3 linked regions of the Homo sapiens genome follow. The protein of the gene in region 1 purifies or fractionates together with the protein of each later gene. This does not show direct contact. Each region holds a gene or a part of one and is shown in the gene's direction. Other genes may lie near its edges.

Region 1 (3,653 bases):
TGGAGTCACGTCTCTATCAGCGTCCCCCAGACTTAGAGTCCCCTGGAAACTGGATGGTCAAGATCATAAGTTATTGGGACTTATGTATGCCAGATGCAACAGTCTGCCCGGCACATTAGACACATCTTATGGGAGTCTCACCACACCTAGAGGGAAGTGTTTTCCAATTTGACAGAAAACAGAGGGGAGGCATTTGTTCAGAATGCATTTGAAACCTGGCCCCTCGGCAAACTTTACTGACCAGCTTCTACTTTAGGGACTAGGCATGTGAAAGAAGGACAGAGTCCCAGCTCTTGTGAACCTTACATTTTAAAGAGTGAAAGAGATTATCCAGGAAACAGACAAATAGAAAGTTTTCGCTAGTGGATCAAGAACATACAAAGGTAACAGAAAGTGGCAAGTGTGTGCCTTGGAGTGCTGCTCCGGCTAGGGAAGTCAAGAGGCCTCTGAAGTGGCCCTGAAGACACCCAAGGGAAGGCCAGACAGAATGGTGAATGCACAAGCCCTGAGAATGGCTAAGGCTTCCTGTCCAGGGCCTGAGTGATCACTGTAGCTGGGACCAAGGGGAGAGGAGCTGAGCAGCAGAAGGTGGGGCAGAGGGAGGGGTGGACAGGGGCCAGAACACTCTAGCCCCATGGGCCTTGGAAAAGAGGGGATGGGAAGATGCTTGAAGGGATAGAAGAGTTGAGAGTGGAGGCTATTCCAAAAACATCCAGGCTAAAGAGGAGGGGGCCTGCAGTGGCCTGAGACTGGGAGCTGAAGGGGCAGAGAGGAGGGGATGGAGTGGATGAGAGGTGTGAAGGAAAAGAGAGATGGAGAATGTAGGGCTTAAACTGTGGAGGCCAGAGAGGGAGCAGAAATGACAAGTAGGTTTTGACCCTAAAACCCAAGCACCTTAGCACTGACAGGAACTTCGCCTTTTTCTTCCTTGTCTCTAATTGGCCAGGACAGTGGTGAGTACATAGTAGATATTCATTCAATCACTTTGATCATTTATTCAATGAACATTTCTTGCAAACCTACGTGCCTGGTACGTCACAGGTACCAAGGATATACCAGTGAATACAGTGGTATCCTTGTTCTCTTGGAGCTGACACTGTAGAGGGAGAAAGGAAAAATAAATTGTGTGTGTTTGTGTGTGTGCATGCACGTGTGTGTGTGTGTTTTGATATGGGCAGAAGGGAAAAGAGAATGGCGGAGGCTGTTTTGGAAGTGATGATAATTGGCTTCTCTGATAAGGTGATATCTGAGACCTGAAAGGAGTGAGGAGGTGAGTCCTAGATGGAAATATCTAGAGGAACAACATTGAAGATAGAGAAAACAGCAAGTACAAAGGTTCAGAGATGGGAGGGTGCTTGTTGACTGACCAATAGGTCTAGTGCTTGTTGACTCACTAATCAGTACCTGTGTCCCTTCCATTAGACTTGGAATTCTCTAAGGAACATGCCTGGGTTTTCCTCATCAGACAAGAGGGGTCAGAGAGGTGGGATGGGGGCCACTTTCTCTCTTTCTTTATGCTATTCTTCTTTCCCCAATCCTGGCCAGGCTTAGAAGTAGGGGCCAGGGAAAGACAAGGGTTGAGTCTGTTACAATCTGGAGAAAAGTTACAGAAAGTCAAGGAATAGGAAGGTTCTGTGCTGTTCCAGAACCCACTACTCATATCCATGCTGTTTCTGCTTTTAACACCTGCAGGTCCCACCCTGTCATCCAGTTCCCCATCTTTGCCACTGTTGTGGCATCCATCACACTAAAACACCCAGCTTCTTGTGTTACCAGCCACAAGTTTTTAGTCTCCCATGCAATAGAAATTGACACAAGGCCAAGTGAGTTTCCCAGACAAGGCTTTATTAGGGGCTTATTCTTGAATACAAGGGAGACAGCACTGGAGTGAGAGTTCTCCAGATGGCTCCCCAAGGAGAGGTCTTTTTGCTGTTTTAAACATGGTGACATGAAAAGCATGATGTATGCTAATATCATTGCATGTGTTGGGTGGAGTGTAGAGTGTGCAGGCCCAGTGAGATATCATGTTAGTACTTACATCACATGATCAAAAAATGGTGGATAAGCCCCTCCCTGGGTGGGGATTTTCACATTATAATGAGGCAAGCAATGAGGTAAAGTCCTGTGTGCATGCAAGCAATAAAGTTAACTCCCTTGAATGAGATTTATGGTAGAATGCTTCTTATCTTAGTTTCTTTAAGGTCTTACAGCCAGTGAGGATGGCACCAGTGGAGGTGCAAGTTCTGGTAGTCAGCGGGTGTGGAAAAATGCATTATTAGTGGTGGAGGCAGAGTCCCGTCCCTACTCTGTTTCACTTGGATATTTACCTCCCGGTGCATTATCTGCCTCTTTGGCTATCTTGACAGGGGTTGGGCATAATCTCACTTTGGGAATGCTGTGAATGTGGTCAATTCCTGCTCTGCCCCAAGGCCTCGAGACTGAGAAGGTACATAGAAGACTCCAGAATCTTAGAATCTCTACTCAGATTCCACCTAGACTCTTGCTTGTGTCCTGGGCCTTAGTCACTTCCTCCTTATTATTCCTCAGTCATTTCTGCTTCTCTAGGTAACTTGCTGACAGAACATGTTGCTCTAAATTCTGCTGATTCAAAACTCTTTTATTCTTACCAACAAAGAGTAACAGGCATCTCCAAATATGCCTGACCACACATGAACTCTTACAACGCATACAGTGAGTGCAGATTACCCAATCCAATAATTTATTCTAATTTTAATTCTAGACACTCCCCTCCTGGTAAGGTGAAATTCTGTGTCCCAAAGGCCCTTTCCACAGAGCATTCTAGGGCTCAGTGAAGGGACATTCAAAAGAGCCAGGTCCTCCTTTTCCATTTGAGCCCCTCTTCTGGAGCCCAGAGCTATAGAGGGAAGAGTGACTGGCTTCTAGGACTCTTAACTGAGGAGAAGGCAGTTGAGGGCCATCAAGGAAAGGCCTCAGAGTAGACAGGAGCTAAGGTAGCTAGGCCTGGTCAGCTGTCCTTTGCCTTAAGTCAGGGGTTCTCAAAGCCTGGACCCTAGGATGGCAGAATCAACACAAACTGCAGCCTCAACCCAGATATATTAAGTCAGATCCTCTGGGTTAGGGCTCAGCAATCTTTGTTTCAAGAAACCCCCAGGTGATTCTGATGCAGAATGGTGGCAAGAACTCAGACCCAGACTGGGACTGTCAGGCAGGTGGAGTCCTGGCTCTCCAGTAGACTCTGAACGTGAGAGGTCATGGGCAAAGCCCTTCTGGACCTGGGCATCCCTTTCTCCATTTGACAAGCCCCAGGATTTTTACCAGGTCTCTGAGGCAGTGATAGAATCAGGTGAACATCTCAATGGGAGATGCACACACAATTGTAACCTTACCCCTTTCTCACTTAGAGGGAAAACAAACTACGTGCAGTTGCTTTGAATGTCTTTGGGTAAAGTCACAGGGGAGCTGCCTGCCCTCTGAATGAGCCAGATATTTCATTTACCCTATTTAGTTAGAGATCTTGCTATACCTTAAGCAGAAAACCCACCATCACTACCACATACTTTCCCACAACCTTGGAAAGGAAGAGACATGTTTGAGTTGGAATTTGCTATCCCTAGACCCTCCTTCCACTTCCACTCTTTTTTGGCATGGGGACTTTTCTGTACTGCCTCCTT
Region 2 (3,653 bases), on another chromosome or scaffold:
AAAAGACTCTGTCTCAAAAAAAAACTAAAAATAAAAAAATAAAAATAAAAGCCACTGTATTCATTTCCTGTGGCTACTGTAACAAATTACCACAAAGTTCGTGGCTTCAGACAACACAAATTTGTCTTCTTACAGTTCTGGAGGCCAGAAGTCCACAATGAGTTTTAAGAGTCTAAGATCCAGGTGTTGGCAGGGCTGGTTCCTTCTGGAGGCTCAGGGAAGGATCCCTTCCTTGCCTTTTCCAGCTTCTAAGCTGCAACATTCCTTGGCTCCTGGCTGCATCGTTCCAATCTCTGTCTCCTTCATCCCACGGCCTTCTCCTGCCTTTGACCTTCTTGCCTCCCTCTTATCAGGTCCCAGGCTCACCCAGACAGTCCAGGATCATCTCCCCATCTCAAGAGCCTTCACTTAATCACATCTGCAAAGTCCTTTTTGCCATGTACGGGAACACCCACAGGTTTCAGGGAGGAGGACGTGGATGTTTTGGGATGCCATTACTTTACCTGCCACAGCCACCAGAGAGGATCTGATGTGTCCCTTTAACTAGGAACCATTGTGAGGAGGTAGCCCAACCCAGGGACTACTTGGCAGACCATATGAAAATGGCGCATCAGAGCAGCATTAAACGCTTCTACCCAAAGCTTGTGCTAACTGTGCAAAGCAATACAGCCCAGCTCTTGCTCTCGTTAAACATAGTCCACATCAGGAGCACAGGATGCTGCCCAGCCAACGTCTCTATCACTGCCTTATCTCCAGATCTAACAGGTACCTGATGAGGTTAGGCTATAACCTAGGAAACCTTAGGAAATAACCCGCGGCATTTTCTCTCCTATGTCCCAGCCGCCGTCAGCCAATCCAGTGGACTCGCAGCCAAATTTGTCATCCACTGTCACATCCCTCAGTGGGGCTCCGACAAATGTGAAGAACAGCTTGAAGAGACCATCAAAAACTGCCTGTCAGCGGCGGAGGACAAGAAGCTAAAGTCCGTCGCGTTCCCGCCTTTCCCCAGCGGCAGGTAAGATGCAGTTCCCCTGAGTTGATTCCTCCGGCTTTTTCCCTGGAAATCAGCTGCTCCCCCACTTACATCTGATCTGGGTGTTGCCAAGGGCTGCCAGCACAGCCAAGTATGCTGACCAGATGACAGGGCAGGAAACCCGGTTTTCATCCTTCAGAAACCATGGGGAAGCGAGCCCACTGGCTCCTAGGCAGCAGGTCTTCCCCGGCTGGGGCCAGCCCCAGTGCCTCCTTGATGTTAAAGCCCCAGGAGGAAGGCTAGCCCAGGGGAGGAGCGGGAGGCAGAGGCCAGCTGGTGTGTTATTTTTTGAGAGCCTTCCAGGTTCAAAGTCCATATTCCCACCAGCTGTCCATGTCCAGGACACATGATCAGAAAACGCCAGGCTCGAAGGCCTTGCTACTCAAAGTGTGGTCCATAGGCAGCAGTGACCGATGTCAGAATGCAGAATCTCAGGCCCCCCATCTCCGACCTCTGGCTCCAGAATCCCCAGAGAATTCCGTTGCTGCTCTGGGAGACTGCAGAGCCAGGAGTTCGAGGCTTTGATGAATACACCCAGAGAAGTGAAAATCTGTCCCCGAGTGATTGCTGAAAAGGAGACTGGGCAATGACTGGATTGTCACAGATCCCAGCTGGGCATTGTTTCAGATACATAATGAGGATATCTGCTGTCACATAAAACATATCCTTTCCCTTCATGCCCCTAGCCAATCTATTGCTTTAATTTTGAACACCCTCTCACCTTGAGAGCTGTCCTTTATAATATAGCTATGGTTTATAGCTGTGTCCTGGGAAGCCCAAGAGGAAAATAATGAGACCTAGGTTCCTGCTGTAATCACACATCAACCTAGGCAAGCAGCATTGAGTCTCAGCATTCCAGGCCCAGAGATGCTGTGAGATGCATTCTTTCGTCGGTGGAACCACGGCAGTGCTGTTCTGTGCTGGAATACATGCGATTGGGAAGAATTCCTATTAACAGGCCCCTCCTGGACCTGCTCCAGGGGTCTCTGTGGCTGACCCCTAACGACCATTCTGGCTGTGTCCCTGGAAGCTGGTGCTGTGGCCCAGCCTGGTGGATGGCACTATCAGTAGCTCCCTGGAACCTGGGGCCTTTAACAAACTTTCATTAACCCCGCCATGCCCGGAGTCACAATGCTGAAATTACATGGGCCTGTGCCTATGAAATATTAAGTGCATAAAAAAGGACTTACGAAGACAGGTTTGGAGCATACATTTTTGCCCTTTACTAAGCAATTGGGTTAGTATATAAACCAGTTTGGAGGGAGCTAATAAAACTTCTGTTTGCTTGTTTGAAGACCAGGTATTTTTAATGCTGAATGGCTAGCATTTTTAAAGCCAAGCTTGACTTGGTCAGGTGACATAGAATCAAATATAGGGAGCTGGCACGGTGGCTCACGCCTGTAAATCCAAAAGCTTTAGGAGGCTGAGGCAGGAGGATCATTTGAGGCCAGGAGTTCGAGACCAGCCTGGGCAACATAACAAGACCCATCTCTACAAAAAATTTAAAAAAAAAAATTTTTTTATAGGCACACGCCTTTAGTCCCAGCTACTGAGGAGGCTGAGGCAGAAGACAGATAGCTTGAGCCCAGAGGTTTGAAGCTGCAGTGAGCTATGATCACACCACTGCACTCTAGCCTGAGTGATGGAGCAAGACTTTGCCTCTGAAAAAAAAACTAATTTAAAAAAAGTATAATAAAAAATAAAATACAGGGCACTCTTCACTTGGCCAGCCCTGTGACCTTGACTAAAATCATTGTGCTTGGCAGGGCACGGTGGCTCACACCTGTAATCCCAGCACTTTGGGAGGCCGAGGCAGGCGGATCACCTGAGGTCAGGAGTTCAAGACCAGCCTAGCCAACATGGTGAAACCCCGTCTCTACTAAAAATACAAAAATTAGCCAGGCATGATGGTGCGCACTTGTAGTCCCAGCTGCTTGGGATGCTGAGGCAGGAGAATCGCTTGAACCCGGGAGGTGGAGGTTGCAGTGAGCTGAGATCGCGCCACTGCACTCCAGCCTGGGCAACAGAGAGAGACTCCATCCCAAAACAAATAAATTAATTTAATCAAATTAAATCATTGTGCCTCTCCGAGTCAGTGTGACACCTATAAAGTGGGGGCAACATGCCCCACCTGCCACCCCCAGGCTGTCCCTTTGGCTAGGGTCAAAGGAGATCATGCATGGACTAGCCCTGCACACAGCAAGGCCCCACCCAGTAAAAACAAAGGCACTTCATGCTCCCATGGGTCCCAGGGACCAAAATGACATCGGCTCTTCTTTTGCTTTGGCACAGAAACTGCTTTCCCAAACAGACTGCGGCCCAGGTGACCCTCAAAGCCATCTCAGCCCACTTTGATGACTCGAGCGCGTCCTCGCTGAAGAACGTGTACTTCCTGCTCTTCGACAGCGAGAGCATCGGCATCTACGTGCAGGAGATGGCCAAGCTCGACGCCAAGTAGCCGCCGCACTTTCCAGCAGGGATCGGAGGACGACCCGAGTCCCAAGAGTGGGGTTTTGCTTTTTAAAAGGAGAGAGGAGGGGTGATGGCAGGGGAGTGGAGGGTGGCCGGGCAGGTCCTGCCGGCGCAGGGAGCCCTCTGCCCTTCACACTCTCCTCCAAAA
Region 3 (3,653 bases), on another chromosome or scaffold:
CATGGATAAATGGAAAGAAAAGTTACCCATAATTTTACCATTCACAGATAAACACTGTTAACATTTTGGTTTCTCCTATAATCTGTTTCTCCTATAATCTTATTGTTATATGTATCTTTGTATATCTGTGTGTATATTCGTTTTGTGTATATCTAGGTTAACTCCGTGTATATGTGCATATAAACATAGACTACTTTAAATAACTTTCATGTTTTTATAAAAACAATGCATACTCATTATGAATAATTCCACTTCAAACAATTGCAAAAGATACAAAGAAGAAAGTAAAATATCACCTAAATCCTACACCAAGAGAGAAATACTGTTAATATGTTGGTGATGTTTTAAAATACCAGTATGCACATATGGATTACACGTGTGGGGTTTTTAAAATTTTTTTATTTATTTTTATTTATTTATTTATTTATTTATTTATTTATTTTGAGATGAAGTCTTGCTCTGTCACCCAGGCTGGAGTGCAGTGGCACGATCTCGGCTCACTGCAACCTCCGCCTCCTGGGTTCAAGCGATTCTTCTGCCTCAGCCTCCCAAGTAGCTGGGACTACAGGCGCGTGCCACCGCGCCTGGCCAATTTTTGTGTTTTTATTAGAGACGGGGTTTCACTATGTTGCCCAGGCTGGTCTTGAACTCCTGGCCTCAAACAATGATCTTACCGTATGGTATGTACAATTGCCTTTTTTGTTTGTTTGTTTTTTGTTTTTTTTTTTTTTTGAGATGGAGTCTCCCTCTTTTGCCCAAGCTGGAGTGAAATGGCGCAATCTCAGCTCACTGCAACCTCTGCCCCACCAGGTTCAAGCAATTCTCCTGCTTCCACCTGCTGAATAGCTGGGATTACAGGTGCCCACCACCATACCCGGCTAATGTTGTTTTTTTGTTTTTTTGAGATGGAGTTTTGCTGTCGCCTAGACTGGAGTGCAGTGGTGCAACCTTGACTCACTGCAACCTCCACCCTCTGGGTTCAAGCAATTCTCTTGACTCAGCCTCCTGAGTAGCTGGGACTACCGGCACCTGCCACCACGCCCAGTTAATTTTTGCATTTTTAATAGAGACAGGGTTTCAACATATTGCTCAGGCTGGTCTTGAATTCCTGACCTCAGGTGATCCACCCACCTCAGCCTCCCAAAGTTCTGGGATTACAGACATGAGCCACCGTGCCCTGCCTAATTTTTGTATTACTAGCGATGGGGTTTCGGCATGTTGGCCAGGCAGATCTCTAACTCCTGATCTCAGGTGATTCACCCGCTTCTGCCTCCCAAAGTGCTAGGATTACAGACATGAGCCACCGCACCTGGCCATACAATTGCCTTCTATATGTTTTTTATTTAATATGACATTTGTATTTCCCCATGTTATTAAAAAATTCTTTATAAGCATTTTTAGTGACTGCATCGTACTACATTTAATATTCGTCTAATGCTGAACATTTAATCTCCCCACCCCCCACTTTTTGGTGTTACAGATAACACTACAGTGAACATCTCTGTAGAACACTTTATTACATTTCAGGTTATTTTCTGAGAACAGACTCTATATCCCTCATTTTATTGGATGCGCATTAAATGGTTCTAGACTTACTTACACTTTCACTTCTGATGCTTCTGTTCAGTATCTCAAAGAATGACCGTTCTCTCTTAACAACCATTATACCTCTTTTCTGATGTTAAAAATCTACATTCATTACAGAAAAGTTGGAAAATAGTAGGCCGGGTGCTCACGCCTGTAATTCCAGCACTTTGGGAGGCTGAGGCGGGTGGATCACCTGAGGTCAGGAGTTTGAGACCAGCCTGACCAACATGGAGAAACCCCATCTCTACTAAAAATACAAAATTAGCTGGGCATGGTGGCGTATGCCTGTAATCCCATCTACTTCGGAGACTGAAGCAGGAGAATCGCTTGAACCCCAGAGGCAGAGGTTGCAGTGAGTCAAGATCGTGCCATTGCACTCCAGCCTGGGCAACAAGAGCAAAACTCCATCTCAAAAAGAAAAAAAAGAAAGGAAAAGTCGGAAAATAGTGAAACACACTCTACTCTCTGTGCTTTTGATCTTTTTTCCATGCTGTCACCTATGCGTTTGTTGTTGTTCTATAAAATTGAGGACATAAGAAGCAGATTGATGTGTAACTTGTTTTTTTCTTTTTTTTTCTTTTTTTTTTTTTTTGAGACAGAATTTCACTCTTTTCGCTCAGAGTGGAGTGCAATGGCGCAATCTCAGCTTACTGCAGCCTCCGCCCACCTGTTCAAGCAGTTCTCCTGCCTCAGCCTCCTGAGTAGCTGGGATTACAGGCATGCACTACCACACCCAGCTAATTTTGTATTTTTTTAGTAGAGACTGAGTTTCACCATGTTGGCCAGGCTGGTCTCAGAACTCCTGAGTCAGATTATCTGCCTGCCTCAACCTCCCAAAGTGCTGGGATTACAGGCACAAGCCATTGCGCCTGGCCTGTAACTTGCTTTTTTTACACTCAACACCACAAACAGAATATTTTCTCATATTATAAAATATTCTACAACATGTACATTACTTTTTTGATGACTTGCTGAAACAAAATCAACAAGCAGAGAAACTGAAATTCCCTATACTAGAAAAACCATTGTGGGAAAGGCCAGCAAATTTCTTCTGGCTTGCCCAAAATCCTCAAAACTTCCCCAGTTGAAGTGATACAGGTATGGAAGAGCATCTGAGACATATCATCTGTGAGTCCTGCTGAGCCCCATCAGTCCTCCACCACTGGTGGGGGCTTCTGGGCCCCACATTTTTAAAGCAGTAGTTGCTAGGTTGACACCATTTCAGCCACATGGACTTGTTAGTGAGTCGTGGCATCCGCTTTATGAGGCAGCAGCGCAGCCTAGAGTCAACATCAAGCCATATGTTGATGCACAAGAGGCTCGCATGTATGCCTATACCAGGCTCTGATTCACTGAATTCATTGGCCAGAATCAGGGATGTTTTCTGAAGGCGTAAGTAAGAGCTATAGCCTTCAGGTCTTCTTGCCACACTGGCAGCCTGGCATAGCAAAGAGAGCACAGGCTTTAGGGTCACAGACCTGGCTTCACTCACTGGCTGGGTCACCTTGGGCAAGCCACTTCACTCATCTGAGCCTCAGTTTTTCTGAATAATGTGGCAAAGTGATACCTACCTCATTGGGGTAGTTCTGAGGACCAAAGGAGAAAATATATGTAGAAAACACATCACTAATTTTTTTTTTTTTGAGGTGGAGTTTCGCTCTTGTCGCCCAGGCTGGAGTGCAGTGGCGCAATCTCGGCTCGCTGCAACCTCCGCCTCCTGGGTTGAAGTGATTCTCCTACCTCAGCCTCCCAAGTAGCTGGGATTACAGGCACACGCCACCATGCCCAGCTAATTTTTGAATTTTTAGGAGAGACAGGGTTTCACCATGTTGGCCAGGATGGCCTCAATCTCTTGACCTCGTGATCCGCCTGCCTTGGCCTCCTGAAGTGCTAGGATTACAGATGTGAGCAAAACGCATAACTAAATGTTAATGGTCCTCTTTTCTCTCTACTCAGCCTATAATATGCAATGTAGCCTAAAAGGCATCCCTAGTATGGTTACCTTTTCTGAATGACCTTGTATGAGCTCCAGGAACTCAAGCCTCAATTTCTGTATCTGTGCATTT

The links.
Region 2: the proteins of FAM111B (region 1) and MACROH2A2 purify together in Homo sapiens (co-immunoprecipitation; one large-scale study listed by IntAct). This does not show direct contact.
Region 3: the proteins of FAM111B (region 1) and ZNF346 purify together in Homo sapiens (co-immunoprecipitation; one large-scale study listed by IntAct). This does not show direct contact.

The regions. Positions count from the first base shown.
Region 1 is NC_000011.10:59,113,676-59,117,328, forward strand, and holds part of FAM111B (serine protease FAM111B), read left to right. Parts: intron 1-3,653. UniProt on the Homo sapiens protein: Serine protease.
Region 2 is NC_000010.11:70,108,193-70,111,845, forward strand, and holds part of MACROH2A2 (core histone macro-H2A.2), read left to right. Parts: intron 1-840; coding exon 841-1,015; intron 1,016-3,325; coding exon 3,326-3,491; 3' UTR 3,492-3,653. UniProt on the Homo sapiens protein: Variant histone H2A which replaces conventional H2A in a subset of nucleosomes where it represses transcription. Nucleosomes wrap and compact DNA into chromatin, limiting DNA accessibility to the cellular machineries which require DNA as a template.
Region 3 is NC_000005.10:177,046,624-177,050,276, forward strand, and holds part of ZNF346 (zinc finger protein 346), read left to right. Parts: intron 1-3,653.